Linked DNA regions of Homo sapiens: all the other regions are linked to region 3. The links come from fine-mapping of genetic effects on gene expression. A gene starts in region 3. Each other region holds a variant in brackets. All regions are shown on one strand. Distances are from middle to middle. Region 1 has its middle 75 kb from the start of PLEKHG3. Region 2 has its middle 32 kb from the start of ESR2. Region 3 holds the start of ZBTB1 (zinc finger and BTB domain containing 1).

The links.
Region 1: its variant is fine-mapped to the expression of ZBTB1 in aorta (GTEx, PIP 0.92).
Region 2: its variant is fine-mapped to the expression of ZBTB1 in prefrontal cortex (CommonMind, PIP 0.90).

Annotation. Positions count from the first base shown.
Region 1 is chr14:64,624,992-64,633,174 of GRCh38, reverse strand. No RefSeq gene overlaps it. Among named protein-coding and RNA genes, the nearest start is that of PLEKHG3, 75 kb to the left of the region's middle. RefSeq lists an enhancer at 1-57. The variant G/A (reference allele first, on the strand shown) is at 4,049.
Region 2 is chr14:64,321,880-64,330,062 of GRCh38, reverse strand. It overlaps a transcript of ESR2 not described here. Among named protein-coding and RNA genes, the nearest start is that of ESR2, 32 kb to the right of the region's middle. The variant T/GT (reference allele first, on the strand shown) is at 4,374.
Region 3 is chr14:64,500,500-64,508,682 of GRCh38, reverse strand. It overlaps ZBTB1 (zinc finger and BTB domain containing 1), which reads right to left and starts at 3,913. Exons shown (of 2, transcript NM_001123329.2): 1 at 3,737-3,913. It overlaps ZBTB25 (zinc finger and BTB domain containing 25), which reads left to right and starts at 4,845. Exons shown (of 3, transcript NM_006977.5): 1 at 4,845-5,022. RefSeq lists silencers at 3,604-3,713, 3,824-4,083, 4,684-5,113 and enhancers at 3,803-4,473, 4,574-4,663, 5,434-5,533, 5,594-5,713.

The DNA of each region.
Region 1 (8,183 bases), 120 kb before region 3:
TTGGGAGGCCGAGGCGGGTGGATCATGAGGTCAGGAGATCGAGACCATCCTGGCTAACAAGGTGAAACCCCGTCTCTACTAAAAATACAAAAAATTAGCCGGGCGCGGTGGCGGGCGCCTGTAGTCCCAGCTACTCGGGAGGCTGAGGCAGGAGAATGGCGTGAACCCGGGAAGCGGAGCTTGCTGTGAGCCGAGATTGCGCCACTGCAGTCCGCAGTCCGGCCTGGGCGACAGAGCGAGACTCTGTCTCAAAAAAAAAAAAAAAAAAAAAAAAAAAAGGGAAGTCAGAGACAGATGCACACAGGAAGGACACCATGTGAAGAGACACAGGAGGAAGACAGCCAGCTACAAGCCAAGGACAAAGGCCTGGGACAGATCCTTCCCTCAGAAGGGACCAACCCTGCCAACACCTTAAACTCAGATTTCCAGCCTCCAGAAGTGAGAGACAATAAATTCCTATTGTGTAAACCATTCCATCTGTGGCACTTTATTACGGCAGTGTTAGCAAATATCGCACCAGCTTTGCTAAACAAGCAAGGGGGTGGGGAGAGATTGGAAAGACTAGACCATTATTCAAGAGGGGCCGAGATCATCTGGAAGAGACTGTACTAAATGGAAAGAAAATTAGTTCTCCTGAGTTACCTTTCATAGACAAGTGAAGTCCTCTGCCCCCACCAGAGGCAATAGAAGCCTTAGAGGAAGATAAGAATAATCACAAAGAAGCCTGTCCTTTTTTGCACATCTGAGTACACTGAATAAAATTCCAGCTGTATTCGAATCTCAGAGATATAGCCTATCCTGGCCTGCTCTCTCGGTGTGACCAGAACCCATCCTCCTGGGCATTTTATGATTTCTAGACTGGCCACTTTCTTCTCATTGATACCAGCTTCCTGACTCGTTGCCATAGTTCCAGTGGCAAATTCCTAAGCTGGCCACAAGAGCAGTGGCATGCTGACGTGGGTTTGTACCAGCTCCCAAGAGCTGGCTGTTAAATTTTCAGGAATTTTGTGAGCCAGTTAAACACGGCCATTATTAAAGATCAAATTATAAATATGACCAAAATTTTTAAAAAGTATTGAATACTCAAAAATCATCATTTTCTAATTATTTTCTTATATTTTACTATTATGTTTTCTGGGTTATTATATCTGTTACATTTGTATGATGGAAATACTTTGTAATGAATTGTTACTGTGTGTTTCTTCCCAATTTCATGTTCAGTAAATTCAGGTAGCTCAAAATCAACTATAGTGGGAGTATTTACACTATGGAAATTGGTAAATGCTACATATCAGCCCCCACCTCAAGGAGAGCCAGTTGTTAAAAATTTACTAGCATAGGCTGGGCGCAGTGGCTCATGCCTGTAATCCCAGCACTTTGGGAGGCCAAGGTGGGCGGATCACCTGAGGTCAGGAGTTCAGACCAGCCTGACCAACATGGAGAAACCCCATCTCTACTAAAAATACAAAATTAGCCAGGCGTGGTGGCACATGTCTGTAATCCCAACTACTTGGGAGGCTAAGGCCATAGAATAACTTGAACCCAAGAGGCAGAGGTTGCGGTGAGCTGAGATTGTGCCATTGTACTCTAGTCTGAGCAACAAGAGCAAGACTCCGTCTCAAAAAAAAAAAAAAATATACCAGCCCATCACTACATAGATGCTGCCATGGGCCTTGAGTTCTGCATTCTTTTTTGAGATGAGGTCTTACTCTGTCACCCAGGCTGGAGTGCAATGACAGGATCACAGCTCACTGCAACCTTGACCTCCCACGTTCAGGTGATCCTCCTGCCTCAGCCTCCTGAGTAGCTGAGACTACAGGTGCATGCCACCATGCCCAGTTAATTTTTGTATTTTTAGTGGAGTCAGGGTTTTGCCACATTGCTCAGGTTGGTCTCAAACTCCTGAGTTCAAGTGATCCATCCACCTCAGCCTCCCAAAGTGCTGGGATTACAGGTTGGGCTCTGTATTCAGATCTACTAGTAGATCAACTGAAAAAGCTTGAGAAACAATTATTATCAGCTGTACCCAGGTCTGATCTGGGATTTAAATTATCAAAGAGTGATGAGAACAGTCTTCCACCATTCCATAGAGGAGGGAGACTCCCAGTGAGGGTGACACCAGTGAGACCTCTACTGTCTTTCCAGACTTGGGGCAGGACACTAGGCAAAGAGCTACTCACTTCCACACCTTTGTTGTCTTTTGCTACTATTGAGTGACAGTGCTGAACAGGGAACCTCTGAGCAGACTGCCACCTGACAACCTTTATTGGTTTAAAATAACCTGGAGTAACTCTTAATCCTGCTTCTGGCAACAAGAGAATGACGGAATTCAAATGGGTCCAAGACTTCCAGGACTGAACTGCTGTCCTCTGCAATCCATTCTGTAAACCCCCCTCTTCCACCTGCTAATGTGGTATCCACAGCAGAGCTGAGTCCTGGGGGAGACTTCTCTTTCTGCATAGTAACAGGTGTAAAAATAGCAGCTGACCCCTTCAGGGATAGGTGTCAGGCAAAAATGTCTCGGGGACCACAGTAGTTGTAGTCTGGGGATGGTAGGGGCTGACCTGGGCTTGTATCCAGCTCTACCATTTACCAACTATGTGGTCTTGGGCAAGGGATGATCTTTCCAAACCTCCTTTTCTCATCTGTACAGTAGGGAAACAAGACAGATTCGCAAAAGTGGAATGAATGAGAGATAGAGACTTAAGTATATATACAGTTGTTCTTCGGTACCCATGGGGGATTGGTTCCAGGACCCTCCACCAAAATCTGCAGATACTCAAGTCCCTGATATAAATGGTGTAGTATTTGCATATAACCCATGCAATCCTCCACTATAAATCATAAATCCTCCCATATAAATCATCTCTAGGTTACTTATGATACCTAATACAATGTAAATGCTATGTAAATAGTTGTTATACTCTGTTGTTTAGGGGATAATGACAAGAAGTCTGTACATGTTCAGTACAGATGTCATTTTTTTTCTCAAATGCTTTTGATCTGTGATTGATTGAGCCCAAGAATTCAGGACACACAGGTACAGAGGGCCAACTGCATTTCAAAGTTACATTCTTAACCAATGCAATAGAGTGAAAAATAGGAATTTAGCTCTAAAGAAATGGTGGGGTCACAGGGTGGTGACATATCTAAATCCTAGTCTGTCGGAGCAGAACAACAGAAGGTAAGCATATTATTTAGAGGGAAAAAGGTAGCTCCCAGAAGCAGCAAAAGCAGAAAAAGTAAAAGTAGTTACGTTTAGAGTTTGGGACTTCAGCTGGGGAGAGATGCAGCTGTTGGATTTTATTGCTGGACTTTCCAAATTTCTTACCTTTTTCTTTTTTTTTGAGACGGAGTTTCACTCTTGTTGCCCAGGCTGGAGTGCAATGGCATGATCTCGGCTCACCACAACCTCCACCCGCTGGGTTCAAGCGATTCTCCTACCTCAGCCTCCCAAGTAGCTGGGATTACAGGCGCCCACCACGCCCAGCTAATTTTTGGTATTTTTAGTAGAGATGGGGTTTCTCCATGTGGGTCAGGCTGGTCTCAAACTCCTGACCTCAGGTGATCCACCCGCCTTGGCCTCCCAAAGTGCTGGGATTACAGACCTGAGCCACCGCCCCCAGCCAAATTTCTTACTTTTTAATCATGTGTATGTATTACCTTGACTCCCTTTATTAAAAAAGAAAATAGCTGTGCATTATATTAACTAGATTTCTAATCTATCTCTTACAGGGTTGATTTTAATTTTCTTTTCCCTGCATGTGAGACATGCTTTGCCACAGCACAGGGCCCTTGGAAACAGTTTGTTTTTATAGCTTCTGTGTCTCTGTAGGTTTCTATAGCTCCTTGAAGTCTGTTTTGTGTATCTCTTGATTTATAAGATGTTCGTGAATCATTCCAAATAAAGACTTCCTTCTTGCAAAAATATGTAAAGAAATAGCAAGGGATGATTCAGAGTTTGAGGCGAGCACTTTCATCTCCAAAGAGCTAAGCAGTGAGCTGGGCAGCACGCAGTCACGGCCAGCCTGGCTAGCACATCATCTGC[G/A]CTCAGCTGGGCCTGGCCATGGCCTCAGAACCAGTCTGCCCCCTGCTTGGCACTCTCCAGCAAACGCACTTCCCTCCCCCACCCCTGTCTCCAGGCCACACTGGAAATCTCACACCCATTAACCTCAAGTTCACAGGCCTGTAGCGTCCACAGATAGTCTTCAGGGGACCCACAACCCACTAGAATTACATTTGCAACCTTGTGTTTTCTGGGAAGAGTGTGCAGATAGTCTTTAGATTTTCAGTGAGCTGTACATAGGTCTCCAACTCTCCTCAAAAGGCAACTTGAAGTGGTATTTACACCCATAGAAACAGTAAAGACTGTGATTCTCTACCCCTTATCATGCTTTCAGCATAGGATGGTGGCTAGAAGCCCCACCTCTGGACTAGACTGCCTTGTCTTTAAGCCTTCCTCCACCATTTCCTAGCTATGTGACCTCAAGCAAAGTGCATCACCTCTCTGTGCCTTTGTTTTCCCAATTATAAAATGGGACAAATAATAGTACCTACCTTCTTGGCTCATTGTGAGGGTTAAAGGAGTTAATATAGGTGAAATGCTTAGAGCCTGGCACCAAGGCAGTTTCAGGTGGTGTTTGGCCCCGCCCTGCTGAAGTCTGACAACTCACAAATGGTCACCCCATTGCTGTGTGCATATCTTCCATGTGCTTGGGGATGTAGCTGAAGCACATCCTAGGGGTCAGTGTGGTGGTTCAGGGTGCTCTAAATGCATAGGTGACACTACAGAGATCCCATGGAGGGGAGCGGAAACTGCCAAAGGCTGTGTGTTGGGTAGGGAGTAGTCATGGCAGCTTCTGCACTGAGCCCTCCCCCAGTGGCTTCCTGGGGCTCCTTCATCTGCTGGACCTAGAAGAACTGTGTATCGTTCTCCTCGACATCGTCCCATCTAACACACCCTCCTCTCTGCCTACTTGAACCTCCACTCATCCTTGGAGACTTCGCTTGAGTCCCCCACTGAGGAGTCTTTTGTGACCACTGCCTCCCCATGTGAAACACACTGCTCTTTCTATGGGACTTGTATTAATCTGTTCTCATACTGCTCTAAAGAACTGCCCAAGACTGAGTAATTTTTGTTTGTTTGTTTGTTTGTTGAGATGGAGTTTTGCTCTTGTTGCCCAGGCTGGAGTGCGATGGTGCAATCTTGGCTCACTGCAACCTCCACCTCCTGGGTTCAAGCTATTCTCCTGCCTCAGCCTCCCAATTAGCTGGGATTACAGGCATGAGCCACCACACCTGGCTAATTTTTGTATTTTTAGTAGAGACAGGGTTTCACCATGTTGCTCCTGACCTCAGGTGATCCACCCACCTTGGCCTCCCAAAGTGCTGGGATTATAGGTGTGAGCCACCTTGCCCAGCCGAGACTGGGTAATTTATAAAGGAAAAAGGTTTAATTGACTCACAGTTCCACATGGCTGGGGAGGCCTCAGGAAACTTACAATCATGGTGGAAGGGGAAGCAGGTACCTTCTTCACAAGGTGGTAGGACAGAGAAGAGTGAAGGAGGAACTTCCAATCACTTATAAAACCATCAGAACTCGTGAGAACTCACAAGAACAGCATGGGGGAACCACCCCCAAGATCCAATCATCATCCTCCCTTGACACATGGGGATTACAGGTCCCTCCCTCGACATGTGAGGATTACAATTCAAGATGAGATTTGGGTGGAGAAACAGAGCCAAACCATATCAGGACCCTTTGTGTTTACTGTGTTTAGTGCAAGCCATGCCGTGTGCAAAGTGAGCCTCATGCATTAGCTCATTTAATTCTCACAACAACCTTTACAATAAACAGAAATGATGATTATCCTTCATTACAGATAAGAAAATTTAGGCTTAGATAAATATTTAAAACTTCATCTGCCTGAGGCCAGGACCCATGCTTTTATCCACTTCTCTAAACAACCTCTCTGATTCTGCCCAACTCCTGCAATGCTTTTTTTCCCCTTAGTTAAAAAACCTCCTGTGGCCCTCTTGAAGACAGGTTCATATCTGATTCATTTTTGTATCCCAAACATCTATTATTGTGCCCAGCATATAGTAGGCACTCAGTAAATGTTAAATGGATGGAGTGATCTGGAATTTGGGCTCTGCAAAAATTTTGCCATGACTTTCTCCAGGTCATAACCTTTTAAAAAGGCTTCTAGCCTATATCAGGGTAAATGCTTACTTAATTCAATAAAAAGTATATATTTACTTAGTACCTACTATGTGACAAGCACATAGGTCTCCAATACTCCTGACAAAGGAACTGTAAGTGGTTTTTACACCTATGGGAACAGTAAAGATGGTGATTCTCTTTCCCTTATCATGCTTCTAACATAGCACAGTGGATCCCCACCCCCAGACTAGAGGTTACAGCAATAAATAAAACAGCAAACCCCTCCACCTCACCCTCTTGAAGCTTATATTGTCTTTTCATTTGAAGAAAGCCTCACTGGGCACCTCCCCTTGGCAGTGCCATTATGACACTTCTTGCTGATAGTGTTTGTATTAGTCCATTCTCATGCTGCTAATAAAGACATACCCAAGACTGGGTAATTTATAAAGAAAAGAGGTTTAATTGACTCGTAGTTCAGCAGGGCTCGGGAGGCCTCCAGAAACTTAACAGTCATGGCAGAAAGGGAAGCAAACATGTCCTTCTTCACATGGTGGTAGCAAGAAGTGCCAAGCAAAAGGGGGGAAAAAAGCCCTTAAAAACCATCAGATCTCATGAGAACTCACTCACTATCACAGGAACAGCAGCATGGGGGTAACCGTCCCCATGATTCAATTACCTCCCACCAGGTCCCTCTCACAACATGTGGGGATTATGGGAGCTACAATTCAAGATGAGATTTGGGTAGGGACACAGCCAAACTGTATCAGTGGTGAAGACTAGACCTGTCCTCTTAGAGTTATCATACAATCCAGATGAATAAATACACAGGTAAAAATAAAAGGCAACTCCCACACAAAAACCAAACTACAGTGGCTCCCGGCTCCCAGCTCCCAGGCAGGCTGAGAGCCCCAGGGCCACTGGCTCAGGTGCATGTTTTCCTGAGCAGCCCTTCAGACCCGGCAGAGGCCCTCACGGAGCAAGTCGGGGGGCACTCCCAGTGTTCTCCTCTGGCTTCACCCCTCACACATGCTGGGCTCCTGCCTCTTCCTCCCTCCTGCTCCAGATCCAGAAGAAGGGCCTGGGCAGGCCCCGTGGTACTCCTGACTTGCCTGGGCTGTTGTTAGCATAGAGATCAAAAAGAGAAAGTGCAGCCAGGGGGTGCGGGGAGAAGCTGGTGAGCCGAGGCAAGAGCTGGCTCCGGAGTTGGCAGCAGCCAGGACACCCAGGTCAAGTGCAAGGAAACAGCGCAGAGGCACTGAGACCGACAAGAGACCCAAGGTCACAGAGCTCACCGCGCATGTCCTTCCTGTTATTTTCCCTCCATGTGCAGAGTTTAAAGTATGAAATCCCTGTAGCTGTGAAAGCGGGGAGACATAAGAGTCTGTTGCCTCAGGGAGAATCTTACTATTGGATTACAAAGGCTCAATATGGAACTCAGAGGGTGGGGCAGATCAGCTCTGGATTCTTTCCTTCTATTTGCCTTTCTGCCCCTACCTACAAGACAAACAGAGCAGCCTGTTGTCTGACCTCCTCAAGCCTATAAGAGTCTCTGCACAAATCTTCACCATTCTTCGGCAGCTCTTTCTGGGGTATCTTCCTGCCCCTCACCTTCCACCCCGGCTAGCCTTTGGCTCACCCTCTGTCCAACCCCACACCTGACCCCAGCTTCTGAAATGAGCTATTCTTATTTCTGAGACTATATATGCATGTATTGGGTCACTTGGGGCCAGCGTGGGGGAGCTGGGATTTAGGGGCTCCTTCACCTTCAGGAGTTCAAATCGTCATTTGATTTAGGGGTAGGCCTGCAGCCTAACAGGGTTCTGTTATTTGGTTAAACCAGTTGAAGCAGAAAGGAAGCATTTCAAAGTAAAGGAAGGGGCCACAGCGTCAGCCCCTGGAAGGGCTCAGCTCACCCTCACTTTCACACAGTGTAGAATAGCTTGATTGTTTTCCTTCCTTTCTTGAATAACTCTTCCTTAATTTTTTTTCCCAGAGATAAGTTCTGTCCCCCAGGCTGGAG
Region 2 (8,183 bases), 180 kb after region 3:
GCTCACTGCAACCTCCACCTCCTGGCCTCTCTAGTAGCTGGGATTACAGGCGCCTGCCACCACGCCCAGCTAATTTTTGTATTTTTAGTAGAGATGGGGTTTCACCATGTTGGCCAGGCTGGTCTCAAACTCCTGAAATTACGTGATCTGCCCGCCTTGGCCTCCCAAAGTGCTGGGATTACAGGCGTGAGCCACCATGCCTAGCCGGGTAGTTTATCTTGACTTGACTTCAGGCTCACCAATCCTTTTGGCTGCAATTCTACGATAGAAAAGGACATAAAAAACTTTAAATTAGCCTTAGAATAAAGAGATGTTATCATTCCCTAGCAATTAGTATTCAAAGCAAGATCCAAATATGTAATTAGTCATTTATGTATCTAAGCTGTTTGTATGTATGATACAAGTTTTCACATACAAATTTCTTCTTTCTTTCTTTCTTTCTTTTTTTTTGATAGAGGCAGGGTTTCACGACATTGCCCAGGCTGGTCTTGAGCTCAAGTGATCCATCTGCCTTGGCCTCCCAAAGTGCTGAGATTACAGGCATGAGCCACAGTGCCTGGCCCAAATTATTGTAGTTATTTCCAATTCCTTTCCCCCTTCTCACATCCCAATTAAAGAATTCCACTCAGGAATTGTTGTAGTAGAAGTGCTTTAGTCTGTGTGCTACGGTTTGGATACTGTTTGTTTGCCAAGTCTCATGTTGGAATTTGATCACTAATGTTGAAGGTGGAGCCTGGTGGGAAGTGTTTGGGTTGTTAAGGCAGATCCCTTATGAATGGTGTGGTGCCCTTCTAGAGGGAGTAAGTTCGTTCTCACTCTTGGTTCCCACAAGATCTCGTTGTTGTAAAGATCCTTGTACTTACCCCTCCTCTCTCTCTTGCCTTCTCTTTCACCATGTGATCTACACACACAGTATCATAAGGCATCTTTCTGATCCTTTAGTGTTCACTCTCCAGTACCTTTAATATTTGCCTTCAAATTTCTCAAATTTCTTTATTTACTTCCATTTTTCTCCTACAATAATTGTAGGCGTACTTAAAGTAGAATTACAATATAAATAATATTTTAAAATATCTACAACTAATACTAAAGGGGTTACTTTATTTTATTTAAATTTTATTTTTAAATAAGAATTTAAAATATCTGCAACTAATATCAGAGCCAAGGGGCTACTTTCTTTGAAATACAAAGAGTCTTTAGAGTCAGACTGTGTATGTTTCAATCTGGGATCTACCTCTTATATTGTAGGTTTAGACAAATTGCTAAATATTTCTTGTCCCAGTTTTCTCATCTACAAAATGGAAAAATTAGCTTCCCTTTGCTGTCTGCCTTGAGTAGAAGCTTCCTGAGGCCCTCATCCAAAACAGATGTTGGTGCCATGCTTCTAGTACAGTCTGCAGAACTGTGAGCCAAATAAACCTCTTTTCTTTATAAATTACTCAGCCTCAAGTATTCCCTTATAGCAACACAAATGGACTGAGATACCGTGTGTGATGTCCTAATCCTTATAATATTATCCTACTACCCAGGCAGATATTGCTCTCCAAATGTCTTCTTAAAAAGGATGGTTTCTGAAATGACACCCTCTTGGGACTATTGGAATTACTGAACAGCTGTTTTCATTAGAAATCTTTTTTTTTTTTTGAGACAGGGTCTTGCTCTGTCGCCCATGCTGGAGTGCAGTGGTGCAATTTCAGCTCACTGCAACCTCTGCCTCCCAGGTTCAAGTGATTCTCCTGTCTTGGCCTCCTGAGTACCTGGGACTACAGGTGTGCAACACCACACCCAGCTAATTTTTGTGTTTTTAGTAGAGATGGGTTTCATTATTTATTTATTTTTTTGAGACGAAGTCTCGTTGTGTCACCCAAGCTGGAGTGCAGTGGCGTGATCTCGGCTCACTGCAACCTCCACCTCCCAGGTTCAAGTGATTCTCCTGCCTCAGCCTCCTGAGTAACTGGGACTACAGGTGCACACCACTATGCCTGGCTAATTTTTTTTTTTTTTTTTTTTTGTATTTTTAGTAGAGACAGGTTTCACCATGTTAGCCAGGCTGGTCTCAAACTCCTGATCTCAGGAGATCCACCCGCTTTGCCCTTCCAAAGTGCTGGGATTATAGGCTTGAGCCACTGTGCCCGGCCTTAGAAATATATTTTGACTATACATATATTTTGTTTTTATTTATTTTTATTTTTTTGAGATGGAGGCTTGCTCTGTTGCCCAGGCTGGAGTGCAGTGGTGTGATCTCAGCTCACTGCAACCTCTGCCTCCTGGGTTCAAGTGACTCTCCTCCCTCAGCCTCTGAAGTAGCTGGAATTATGGGCACATGCCACCATACCCAGCTAATTTTTGTGTTTGTATTTGTATTTTTGAGGTGGGGTCTTGCTCTGTCGCCCAGGCTGGAGTGTGTGGCATTATCTTGGCTCACTGCAACCTCCGCCTCCTGGGTTCAAGCAATTCTCCTGCCTCAGTCTCCCGAGTAGCTGGGATTACAGGAGCCCGTCACCACACCCGGCTAATTTTTGTAGTTTTAGTAGAGACGGGGTTTCACCATGTTGGCCAGGCTGATCTCGAACTCCTGACATCAGGTGATCTGCCCACTTTGGCCTCCCAAAGTGCTGGGATGACAGGCGTGAGCCACTGTGCCTGGCCTAATTTTGTATTTTTAGTAGAGATGGGGTTTCACCATGTTGGCCAGGCTGGTCTCGAATTCCTGAGCTCAGGTGATTCACCTGCCTCAGCCTCCCAAAGTGCTGGGATTACAGGCGTTTGCCACTGTGCCTGGCCAACTATATATATATTTTAAAAGGGGACATTTCTTTTTAATTTTGGAATGGACATTTGAAAATTGTTTGAATTACTTTAGTCTACTCATATCTTTCAGTCTATTGACACAAGGTATATCTGGTTTAAAGAGAAAAGGTGGAACAAAAAAAACCCATTCTAGATCAATTGGTAGATGCCAACAGATTCACTCCCATATGAATATGAAAGGACAAGGAACCATGAATATTTTCATGATGAAGGTGAGAATAAGTTTTGATTGATTTTTGAAGAAAAACAATTTTTGTTATCTTGTTTAACTCTAGGAGGTAATCGAGAAATGTTGAGTTGTTTGTTGGTTCTCTCCCAAAGGGAGGGTAGAAGGAAGCCATGGTTCCTTTATACCGTGGTTGACTGGGAGCCTTTATGCCTTTCTGATATATTAAGAGAAAATGCAAGGGGGGCCTAAAGGTCTCTGTGATACTGAAGAGAAAGGTATAGGGGTAATAGGGCTGTGAGAAAGCTGAAAGCTGAGATCATGTTACAGAATAAGATAGCGGAGTTTCATATTTCTGGTATGGGGCAATTCCTGCTGATGACAAAATCCAGGGTTGTTTTTGGATCTAGGTGTAGGTGGTTGAAGTAGGGTATAAAGGCAGTCATGTGCTGGTAAACTGGCTCTTGAGAAAAAGCACCCAATTTGAGCATTCATTGACTTTTGATACCAACATGTCATTGAGCATAGAATTAGAAAGAGATATGAATAATCAACTCTTGGGAGCTGGAATGATCTGGCTTTAACAACCACTTTCTACATCAAAAAAAGTTAATGTTATTAATATTAGAATAATAAATAATTAAATAATAAATGAGTGTAGGTGTAGGGCATTGGAATTAAGTACACACATGAATCACAAAGCTGTATTATTGGATCGATCATCTACTGTGACCCCTGAAATCTTGAATTATGGTATGAGTTGGTATAGAAGAAGAATGTGAGGCCCCAAATCTTCATTGAGTGAAGGAGGGTTGAGGAGTAGTCAGTAGAAAAGAATAAAAAGAGAAGATTTTATAGAAGTCTGTTGGGGGTAAAATATTGCTGAGGAAGTAAAATAGTACTGAGGAAGTGTTCTTCAAATTCCTTCGACTATAACCACTTTTTAATGTAATCTGTATGTAAAGCAAGGGTCTACATGATCCAATTTATGTGTTGGCTCCATTTATAAAAGAATATTTCAGTTGTCAAAACTAGTTGACAGTACAGTTAATCCTTTAATAATCTGGGGTTAGGGGATATGGCCATCATGCAAAAAAAAAAAAAATCTGTGTATAATTGTTGACTCCTCCCAAACTTAACTACTAATAACCTGTTGTTGACTGGAAGACTTACCAGTAATATAAACAGTTGACTAACACATATTTTGTATGTTGTATGTATTATACACTGTATTCTTACAGTAAAGCTAGAGAAAAGAAAATGTTATTAAGAAAATCATAAAGAAGAAAAAATATATTTACTAATCATTAAGTGGAAGTGGATCATCATAAAGGTCTTCATTCTCATCGTCTTCACTTTGAGTAGTCTGAGAAGGAGGAAGGAAAGGAGGGGTTGG[T/GT]CTTGCTGTCTCCGGGGTAGCAGAAGTAGAAGAAAATCCACGTTATCAGTGGACCCATGCAATTCAAATCGGTCTTCAAGGGTCAACTGTAATTCCAATCTTAATTATTTGCCTTAACTAATTTTCTTAATAAAAGGTGGAATATTCATAATTTACAATAACACCTTCATTTTCTTAACTTTTCTCACTATATCTCTCACATCACATCCTAAACCTTTTTCTCCTGTGCCTAACTCTCCATTCTCTTAAAAAACTCTCCCAGATCCAGTCTATGCTGCTCATAATTTCTCTTCCCTTCCTCTTTTTCCTACCTTCTTTCTAATGCAAATTCATCATTTCATGAATAATTTTCTCTCCTCTTATTTCCTACTTTTACTCAACAAAAGTCCAGAAACTAAACTTGCTTACTCAGATCCCAGAGCTGCATAAAAGGACAGGAGATCTTGGATGATGTGTGGGTTGGAAACAGAAGGTATTACATTCTTTTGTTAAATAATTGAGGATTTTGCATGTGGTTAAAATGATGTCAGAGCTAGGCAAGGAAACGGGATTCTCCTACATTCCTGATAGGAGATTAAATTGGTACAACCCATTTGGAAATGCATTTGTCAATATCTCCTAAAACCAAAGTGTATCCCTAAAACCAGAATATATCCTACCCTGTGACTCAGCAATTCCACTCCATCAACAGTGGAATGTAATGAATATGGCTATCAGGTTTCAATATGCTAGTGACATCTGCTACATCTATTAACAGAAGTCTATAATTTTTTAACCTCTGATCTCTGAAAACTTATTTTATGACTTTATTACTCTACAAACTAAAATGTCTTACTATTGTGTATCAGATCCACTTCTTTTTAAATTAATTTTTAAATGTCAAGTCTTAATAGTCTTCCTTTAGCCTCTATTTACTAATTTATTGTCCCCACAATGTCACTCTAAACGTAACTGTTAACTATCAGGAAGTATTTCCTTCTTTTTCTATAGAGAACAGAAGATCTTCAGCAGGAAATTCAGATGCTTACTCAGCAAATGGAACAGCTGTATCATCTTTATGAACAGCTGTTTGTGAATCATTCCAACTTGAAGAAAAGTATAGGGAACAACAAAAGATCCTTGAAATACCTGGAAGGAAAAATTGCTTTTAATGATGTTTTAAAAGATTAGACTATGAAAAAAGACTTTCCTGAATTATAGATGTTATTTTGGGCAATGAAATTAACTATTTATTATTCTAATATTAATAACTTTAACTTTATTTGGTGTAGAAAGCTGATAAAAACTATTTATATTTCACTTAACATTGGAAAAGTGAGGGGGAAAAATCCTTAGAGTTATGCTTCTAATTTTATCAAAAAACATGCCCTTTCCCATATCTTCAGTTTTTTCACTGTGTACATATTTGACAGATAAAACCATCAATATAATATGGAAAGTTTAGTGTCTTTTATAATCTCTTCTTGTAAGTTACATAACATCACTTCTGCCATATTCTATCAGTCAAACAGACCAACCTGATACAATGTTGTTCGAGACTATAAGGGTACCAGGCGGCGCGGTGCAGATCATTGGTGGTCATCTTAAAAGTCTGGCTACCGCACTCATTTCTTTTACTCACAAACTGAATGATTTGCTTATTCATTCATTTATTCAATACTTATTGAACAACCACAGATTTTACAAACATATAGGACTGGCTGGGGGCAGTGGCTCACGCCTGTAATCCCAGCACTTTGGGAGGCTGAGGTGGGCTGATCACCTGAGGTCGGGAGTTCAAGACCAGCCTGGCCAACATGGAGAAACCCTGTCTCTACTAAAAACACAAAAATTAGCCAGGTGTAGTGGCTCACATTTGTAATCCCAACTACTTGGGAGGTTGAAGCAGGAGAATCGATTGAACCTGGGAAGTGGAGGTTGCAGTGAGCTGAGATCGTGCCACTGCACTCCAGCTTAGGCGACAGAGCAAGACTCCATCTCAAAACAAACAAACAAAATAGGACTTAATGAAGTAAGGTCAACAGTAGACCATATAGAGTTTAAAGATAAATATATCATCTCATCTAGCCTCCACCTCTGCCTTTGAATATGTGTATGGAAATAATACATTGAATGGTTAATCCATGCAAATAAAAATAATCCTTTATTAAGTTTTCTTAAGATTGTACAAAATAACGTGTGCTTGGCCAGGCATGGTGGCTCACACCTGTAATCTCAACACTCTGTGAGGCCGAGGTGGGATCACTCGAGGTCAGGAGTTTTAAGACCAGCCTGGCCAACATGGTGAAGCTCTGTCTCTACTAAAAACACAAAAATTACCTGGGCACGGTAGCACATGCCTGTGGTCCCAGCTACCTGGGAGGCTGAGGTGGGAGAATCATTTGAAACTGGGAGGCAGAGGTTGCAGTGAGCCAAGATTGCACCACTGCACTCCAGCCTGGGCAACAGAGTGAGACCCTGTCTCAAAAAACAAACAAAAAACAAAATAACATGTGCCTACCCCAACACTTAAAGCTATGCTAAACAGTTTAAAGGAAATAATAATTTTCTCTCTGCCCATGTCACCTCAGTAACCAATGTTAACCATTCCCATAGTTATGGAAATATGTAAACATATATAAAGGGTAATGGTGTCTTCACAAAACTAAGATCATTCTAATAAAAATATTCTGCAACTTCCTCTACTTAGTAGTGCCTCATGGTTGTATCTTAAGTTAAAAGATATAGCTCTTCCTTTAATAACTGTATAATATTCTATAGTATGCATGTATCTTAATTTATTCAACCATTTCTCTTTTGAGGGATGATATAATTATTTCCTTCTTTTGGTCACTACAAATAATGTGAAAATAAGTATCTTTCAACTTATATCCTTCCACACTGGTGCTTTTGTTGCTAGGGGATTAATTGACAAATATGAGCTGATAGGGTCACAGTGCGTATTTTAAATTCTAATAGCCATTGTCAGATTACTATTTGCAAAAGGATAGAAGCAGTTCATTTAAGAGTAAATCATTCTCCTTTACATCCAGCTAGCATTGAATGCTGTCATTCTTTTTTGTTGTTAGTTGGGTAAAAAAAGAAACAAAAAACAAGGTACCTCATTATTATTGTAATTTACATTTTCTTGACTACTAGTGAAGATAAGGATCTTTTTTTTTTTTTTTTTTTCCTTTCTGTGGAGATAAGGTCTTACTATGTTACCCAGACTGGTCTCAAACCCCTGGATCAAGCTATCCTCCTTTCTCAGCCTCCCAAAGGGCTGAAATTACAGGTGTGAGTCATTGCACTTAGCCAGTAAGCATCCCTCTTCTTTAAAAAAATAATTTCAGGCCAGGTGCAGTGGCACATGCCTGTAATCCCAGCACTTTGGGAGGTCAAGGTGGGTGGATCACCTGAGGTCAGGAGTTCGAGACCAGCCTGGCCAAGATGGCAAAACCCTGTCTCTACCAAAAATACAAAAATTAGCTGGGCATGGTGGTGGGTACCTGTAATCCCAGCTACTCGGGAGCATGAGGCAGGAGAATGGCTTGAACCCAGGAGGCGGAGGTTGCAGTGAGCTGAGATCATGCTATTGCACTCCAGCCTGGGTGACAAGAGCAAAACTCTGTCTCAAATAATAATAATAATAATTTTTATTTTTATTATAGATTAAGGGGTACATGTGCAGGTTTGTTACATGGGCATAATGCGTGATGCTGAGGTTTGGGTTACGTCACCAGGTAATGAGCTTAGTACCCAATAGGTGATTTTGCATCCCATGTCCCCTCTCTCCCATGTCTGGTAGTCCCCAGTGTCTATTGTTCCCAC
Region 3 (8,183 bases):
AGATAGGTATTTTTATTATCCTCATTTTGCAAATGAAGAAACAGGTTCAGTGGCTGACTTCCCCAAAACTGCTTATCTTGTAAGTAGAAGCTGAGACTCTTGATTCAAAGCCCTAAGTTTCAGTTTGTGTAAACCAGACAACACTCTTCTGAATATGACTATTAGCTGAAGTGCCCCTTTGGAACATTCTAAGCCTCCTAGAGTCACCTTTTTCATGAATCTAAAAGCTCTCATCATTCTCTTACTGCTCCATCTTGCAGGAAGAATGTCCAGTCCCTTCCCTAAATCCCCTTCCATCTGCTAACTCCCCACTGTCCACCAGAGCATGCCTCTTCTAATACTTCAGATTCAAAGTGGGGATGGAACTCATCTCTAAAAACGACTGCATGCATCTCATATAGACAAAAGAAAATCTGGTTAATTCTTTAATCTTCAAATTTTATTTTGAAAACTATTTTAAATTCAAAGACAGAGTAGTATAAAAACCACCCACGTCCCCAACACTCTCAAATAACCAATGTTGTAATTAACTTTCTATGTACTATTTTGGGGCTCTGTTTTTAGATCATCATCAACTTCTTCACAGTTCATTCTTCTTAAATACACATGGCTAAGGAGTGAGACCCTGCCGCTTCCTCCCCAGTATCAGTCTCTTCCATGCCACATCTGAAAACAGCGGTCATTGACCCTTCTTTCGTCCAATTTCCTTTCCATATGTTCAGCATGCAATCTTTGGTGCTGATCAAGAGGAACCCCATCCCATATCAGCACAGGGATATATTGGCAGTGGTCTTCATGGCAAGTATACCCACTCCTTCCTAATTATAAATTATGAAACTCTCTATAAAGGTGAGGGTTTGCTTTTGTTTTCATGTGTTTGGCTGCTGTAAATCAATCCATCAGAGGCTGGGCAACAACATTAACATGAACAAAGTATGAAAAATAGCCCACCATGATACAGTAAGTATTTAATAAGGACAAACCTAAAATAGCAGCCCAGTTAATCAAATAATTTTAAATCAGCCCAATGCAAAACACTCCCCTTTCCTCTACCTGGCAATTCTTACCAACCTGAGTAATGTGAACAGAGAACATGAGTCCATGAATCACCACAGGCCATCCCCAGGCAGAGTGAGGCACACACAGCTGTGATCAAATGTTGCCTTCTCTCGTTTTAAACAAGGAATTAACTGTACATGGTGATTATCTCTGGGGAGTGGGAGTCAAAATGACTTTCATTTTTGTATTTTATGTACTTCAATACAGGCTGAATTTTTCAAAGAGCATGGATTTTATAATAAAAAACATTTCCATTTTGAGAAAAAATAGACACGAGTAACCCTTAATTTGGTTCACATAAGAATATGAGAAAAAATAATTTCACCATTTTAGCATGAGATACTAGCACAGAAGAAAATGTCAGGAGAAAACATTCTATAGAGACCAAAGTGACCTCTCAAGAAGATGTTTCTCAAATATACCTCATTTTTTTTGGGAAGACAACAGATTGCAGCTTATTAACAAAAATCTATGGAAATTTTTCTGTATTTCTATACCAAATAGTTTCCTCTCCTTTGCACCAAAGGCTTAGTGCTTTTCCTGGCTAGAGGGCAAGTCTGAAAGCAGGTACTTCTTTTCTCCTGCACATTAGAAAGGGAAATGATGCTACAAAGAAAACGAGATACTCTTAAAAAGGTCGATGAACTATATCTTCCCCAGAGCCTGGCAAAAGAGGAGAATGAGGAAGCAGTACAAAAATTTAGAAGTGTTAAACTGAAATCAAAGCACAAGGTCAAGAGCAAGTGGCTGTGACTGTGCTCATGCCCTGCTAAGGCCCTGGTTAAATATGGTTTCTCTTTTCTCTGACAATGATACACCAGTCCCTTCCCCACAAAAACCCCAAAAAAGTAGGCCATCGTATTAGGAGTGGGAAGAATAGAAAGGCTTCAGGAAAGACTGTTCAACCTGAGTTATTCAATACCATGAAAATGTGGTATTAATGGAGAAAGCCTGCTTGCTCATAAAACGAATGTAAGAGGTTAACTGAAGACTCTACTGTAGACGTTATGTTTATTAACCTTTGGAAAAGCATTTCACCTCTACTATGCTTCAGTTTCCTGTTTTTGTTGTTGTTGTTGTTTGTTTTTTTGAGACAGAGTCTCGCTCTTGTTGCCCAGGCTGGAGTGCAGTGGCGCCATTTCGGCTCACTGCAACCTCCGCCTCCCAGGTTCAAGCGATTCTCCTGCCTCAGCCTCCTGAGTAGCTGGGATTACAGGCGCCCGCCACCACGCCAGGCTAATTTTTGTACTTTTAGTAGAGATGGGGTTTCGCCATGTTGGCCAGGCTGGTCTCGAACTCCTGACCTCGGGTGATCCACCCGCCTCGGCCTCCCAAAGTGTTGGGATTACAGGCGTGAGCCACTGCGCCCGGCCCAGTTTCCTGTTTCTTTAAGAGGAGGAACCCCCTTTCTAGCTCCCAAAGTCATCCAGTTATTATTGAGACTTTATTAGATATCCAGCAAGTGATTCAAAAGCAAAGTTTTGAGGTTCTGAGCAAATGTTGGCCAGCCATCATTCAAGCCTCATCTTTTTGTACTCAATTTTCCCCGTTTCTCCACATCATATCTATCTGCACTGACAAAATTTCATAGAATCTAATTTCTCCGTTTCAAAGAAGGCTGTGATTGCTCTGTAAATTATGAGACCTGCATCCTTCACCAAATCTGCTTCAGAGACATTGATCCTACGTTGCCTCAAAAAGCCTCGGACCACTCCTTGGGTTCGAGTGTCAAAGGGAACACTATTTCTTGTACTGATACATACCGTATGGAAATACACTAACACCAATGAAGAATCTGCGTGCACTGCCACACTGAAATTCGACTTAAGAACGTTATCACACACAAATGTCCTATCCCCAGAAAACGTCAAGGATTTTCATCAACCTCTTCCTGATTCGCCCAATTTAGAAAATGTCATGTCAACCCTTCAGATCATGTACACGCGTTGCTTAGGTAGAAAGGGAGACTGGGTGGGGTGGCTGAGCTCAGACCCTGCCTACATACTTTAGTAGTAACGACTCCCGATCTGCATCCAACACATTTACCGAACTTCTAGTAAGCGCCCACCGCTGCAAGCGAAAGCACTCCCTTCCCAAGAAACAGATCTTTTCCACTTAAAATTCCCAAACTCAGACCTTCCACTTTTTACTGAACAAAAAGCGTGTGTGCCGGCGAGAGGGGGTGGGAAACAGCGTAACAAGAATTTGCACGGATCTTACGCCTCCTCCCTCGGAGCGCGCCCAAGTCTGCAGCCTCGGGCTCCGGGACACTTCCCCTCCCACCCGCCGCCGAGCCGCAGCTGTAAGTTGAGAGAAGCGGGCTCTAGGCACGTCAATCAACCGGGTTCTCCCGCCTCCCGTCTACACCTCCCCTCCCCCCTCGAAAAAAATAAAGGCAGAGAAAGAAAGAAAAGAAGGTAACTAATTTGGGAACTAGTCTCCGTAGGGGCTTCGCCTCCGACTCAGGGAGGCCGCACGCCCGGGACCTGACGCGCCGGCAACAAGCAGGCGGCCTGGCAGCCGCCCGTCACCGGGTCCTCGCAGCGCGTCCGCCGCGCTCCGGCTCCCCGCACGGATCGGCGCCCCTCCGGCCCCGCACTCCGCCAGGCCCGCGGCCCGTCGCCCTCCGGCCTGGGCCAAAGTTGCGCAAATAGCCCCACAACTGGCAAATACTTACCGGCCGCAACAGGAACCAGAGCTGCGGAGATTTTAGGGAGTTTAAGGCAAATCAGCCGCGGGAAAGGCGGGCGAAGGCGAAGGGGCCGCGAGCTGCAGTGGCGGCGGCGCGCGGCGCTCGGCGCTCGGGCTGGGCTGCGCGGAGAGGCTCTGGCTCTGCCAGGGACTGTGCTGCAACAAAGGACTTCCGCTGCCGCACAGCCGCGCCTGCCGCACCGCACTGAGCCGGCCCCGCTTACGCGGCGACTCCGGGTCTGCCCACCAGTTCGCTGCGGCGTCCGCCAGCCTTCCCCTCCCTCTCGCCCGCCCACCCACTCTGCCGCTGGCTGCTAGGGGCACCCGCGGTCGCCTGTTTGTTGCAACAAGTTTCTGCGTCGAGCTCCGAGGAGGCTGGCGCAACCCGCACCGCGGGGGCCGTCGCGGCGGCGGCGGCTTGACCACCCCTCTTGCCCCTCTCAAGGGTAGGCTTGGGACCTCCTCCTCCTCCTGTTTGCACAGCTGGATGGAACTGGGCTCCTCCCGACTCCCCAGGGCAGGATGCGAGGCTGCTTTCCCACTCCGTCCAGATGTCAGACCCCTGCCCGTTGGGCCCAGCAGCTGGGCCGTCACTCGCGGTCCGCCTCGAGTGCTCCGGCAACCTCGCCCTGCCCCGTCGGTTCAGGGTCGCCCAGTCCCCGCGCCCCCCCGACCCCACCTTCCGTGGGCCTGCTGCCTCTGGCCCTGAGTCACTTCCCCCGCCATGCCCCACCTCGCCCAGTCCGCCTCTCCACCCAGGCTCCCGCGGCTCGGCCTCCCTGGCCCCGCGCCCTCATCCCTTCCCCAGCGAACACGCGGGCGCATCCTTCCCCACCCCCACCTTCACCCCAGAACTGAGGGGGTGCCTGTGCTTTTGCACACCCTGGGGAAAGTCCCCGGGTCACGCGGTTGTTTGTGGGGAGCCTGTGACGCTCAGGCTTGTCCCTATGCTTCCGCCTACAGAGTCACAACTGCGAACTGTGGCGGCGGCACTCAGAGCGCGGGCCGACCCCCGCCCGGCCACTGAGGCGGGCGGGCGGGAGGGCGCGCACGTACGCACGCACGCACGCACGCACACCCCGGCCCTGGCGCCCCTCTTTCCCCTGCTACCAGACACGCGGTCACGTGGGGCCATCGCGGGCTGCCGGCGCGGGAAGCCGCGCGAGAGGCGGCCGAGGGGTGCGTGAGCCGGCGCCACTGCTTGCAGTGCGCGGCTTGGGAGCCCGCCCCTCCTGCACGGAGGAGTCGGCCTGCCGCCGCGGCGGCATCTGGGTAAGCGACGCGGTCCTGCCCCTGTGGGCTGCCCCGGGCTCAGTCCCTCCTGCCGCGAGCCACCCAGGGCGGCGGCCTGCAGCTGCACCAGTCGCGGGACAGATGCAAGTAGCTGGGGAGAGGGGTGTTTTTGGTCCGATTGAGATGTCAGGCAGGGCACAGGAGGAAAATACATCCGCGAGTGAGCGCTGGGCCGACAATACCCAGAACCACCCTTTGCTGCTCGTAGGAGCGGCTGCCGGGGCCTGATTCAGGGTGGCACACGGGGTGCCGCGAAGGTGCAGAGCCGTCCCGGCCGCGGGTCCGGGTGCGACCCCCAGCAGGAAACCCCAGTAGGCCTGCGGCCTCCCTCGGGTAGCGCCGACCCCTCTTACGAGCGGGCGACTTTCCAGATGCTGGGAGGACGCTGCGGCTACTGTTTCCACTCCCAGCTTGTGATTACCTCGTTTCTAGGGCAAGAAGACATCCCCCCCTTTTCTATCTTCAAATTATGTTTATCTTGTTCTAAGCATATCCGGTTTTTCTTTTTGAAGCTTGACCCATCTTATCACCGTCTTCTCTGGCACTCAGTATTTGGAGTAATCAGTTGTTACCAGTTGCGGAGGCAGCGCATAGCACAACGTAGTACCTGGAACCTGACGGCACCTAGCATGTTTCAACAGTTAGCGCCCGCATCACCCCAAGGGATTAAATTTGGCATTCTTTCTCTTGAGACTCAAGTCCTGGCAGAGCTGTTGATCCTCTCACAAGATTCTGTCATGTATGTAAAGTACACTTTGGAATCTTAAATTTTAGAGCCGAGAGGTGCCTTATAGAAAATCTGTTTCATCCCTCTCGTTTTACAGAGAAGACACCAGGCCTGAAGAGCGTGATGTAGCTGGAGCTAGCTACACCTCTTGATAGCTAAGACTCCAAGGCTCCAGACACCTTGGTGATTGCACTCTCCACCATGCCAGGACCGCAGTGCCAGTTTACCCCACTCACCTGTAGAGAATGTATCCGGCGGAGGTCATTATATATACTTGGCTTGATTCAGGTTATGGAGAAGTCAGGCATGGCCACTGTGTGGGTTTGATGGTATTTCTAGGTGAGGTAGGCCGCCTATGGTGTATTTTTGGAACTAAAAGCCTACACCCCCCAGCCACCCCTGAAAGTTTCATTGCTGTTCTCTATTATTTGCAGCATTGGTTGCTTCCTTATGTTAAGGCATCAAAGTCTTCTTTAACAATCTGGATATATTTTAGTTAAGGGTAAATCGTGAATCCGTTATCGGACATCAACTCCTTAATAGGGAACAGAACACTGATGGGATATGACATGGAACAGATTAATTCTGAGAGCTGGCAGTCAGTGAAATATCAAGGTGTGGTCAGGAAGAAAACAGAAAGGAACCCACGTAACCTGCTAACACCTTTTTTGTCCAGTCCTACCTTGAATGTCTTATTTGCATGTAGTAGAGATGGATTCTGCTCAAGTTGGCCGCTGTTTACTGAGTACTTGCAGTGGGCCAAGTATCATACTAGCTGCTTTCGTAGATGAACTTTGTGTCTTTACCAAAAAGGAGATGGTACTGTCTTCATGTTACAAGCCTGAGGAAACAGGCTCATTACCTGGGCTGTGGTAATACAGTCATTCGCAGTAGAATTTAAGCCTAGATCGCTTATCTCTCAAGTCCAATCAGTGCTGTTTTGCATTATATCTTGCTCCTGTTTCAGCCGGGAAGGGAATGAGAGAATCGCCTGTGGCTGATTTATTGGCGCCTGTGGTTGCCCAGAGAGGCCAAGCAGGACTTTCAGCTGCCCTCTATGCCTTACAAAGTGGAGCTGTGAGCTTCCACCCTATCTCCTGAGGGGAATGTGAAGGAGCCAGGCTGTCTAGCTGGGGAGGAGGTGCCTTGGCCGTAAAATATCCTGGCCAGGGCTGTGCTGGGAAGTGTTGCATAATGTCCTCCCCACCACTGAACCAAAGTGATTTATTTGCTATGGTCCGTAGGTGGTGCCTGACCAACTTGTCCATTTTAGCAATAACAGGGCCAGAAAAGAGTTGGGGGTTTTATATTATTGCAGGGTTTTTCCTTGTTTTAAAAAAGCAGTGCAGGTGCTCTTATCTTGATAAGTTATAAAGTGCTTCTTTCTGCACCACTTCCTGTGCCCCTTTTCTGTGTATTTATTCCAAATAGCATGTGAACTTCAGTCTTTTAAGAAGAGAAAGCTAAGAAAATATTGCTCCAGTTTATTAGCACAGGCTATGGAGACAGACCTGGCTTTTTATCTCCACTTTATACCATTTGCTGATTGTGTGTCCTAAGCTTAGGATTTTTCCTCATTTGTAAAATGGAAATGAAAATAATACATTAGTCATCACAGTGACGATTTTAAGAGATAGTGTATATAGAGCACTTAGCACAAGGCCTCGCATATAGTATTTATTATAATAATAGGTTTTGAAAATAACCAGAATAGTATTCTCCCTAAAAAGGAAAGATATTGCTACTTGAACCTGCTTAGGGATAGAGGAGGAAGAAGAAAGTGTTTGTAACAAACATCAGTTTCAGGATTATTGATTAAATTTTTTTATACTTCTGGGGTTTTTTTTGTTTGTTTGTTTTTTGAGACAGAGTCTACCTCTGTCACCCAGGCTGGAGTGCAGTGGTGTAATTTCAGCTCACTGCAGCCTCCGCCTCCTGCATTCAAGCGATTCTCTGGCTTCAGCCTCCCGAGTAGCTGGGATTACAGGCGCCTGCCACCACACCTGGCTAATTTTTGTATTTTTAGTAGAGACAGGGTTTCGCCATGTTGGCCAGGCGGGTCTTGAACTCCTGACCTCAAGTGATCCGCCCACCTTGGCCTCCCAAAGTGCTGGGATTATAGGTGTGAGCCACTGTGCCTGGTCCATGTTTTCTTTATCCATTTGACTATCCATGGACATTTGAGTTTTTCCCCCTTATTGGCAATTCTTCTGCCTCAGCCTCCCAAGTAGCTGGGATTACAGACGTCTGCCACCACGCCCAACTAATTTTTGTATTTTTAGTAGAGACGGTTTCACCATATTGGCCAGGCTGGTCTTGAACTCTGACCTCAGGTGATCCACCCTCCTCGGCCTCCTAAAGTGCTGGGATTATAGGCATTTATTTACCGTTCTGCTTTCCCTTTGCTAGCAGG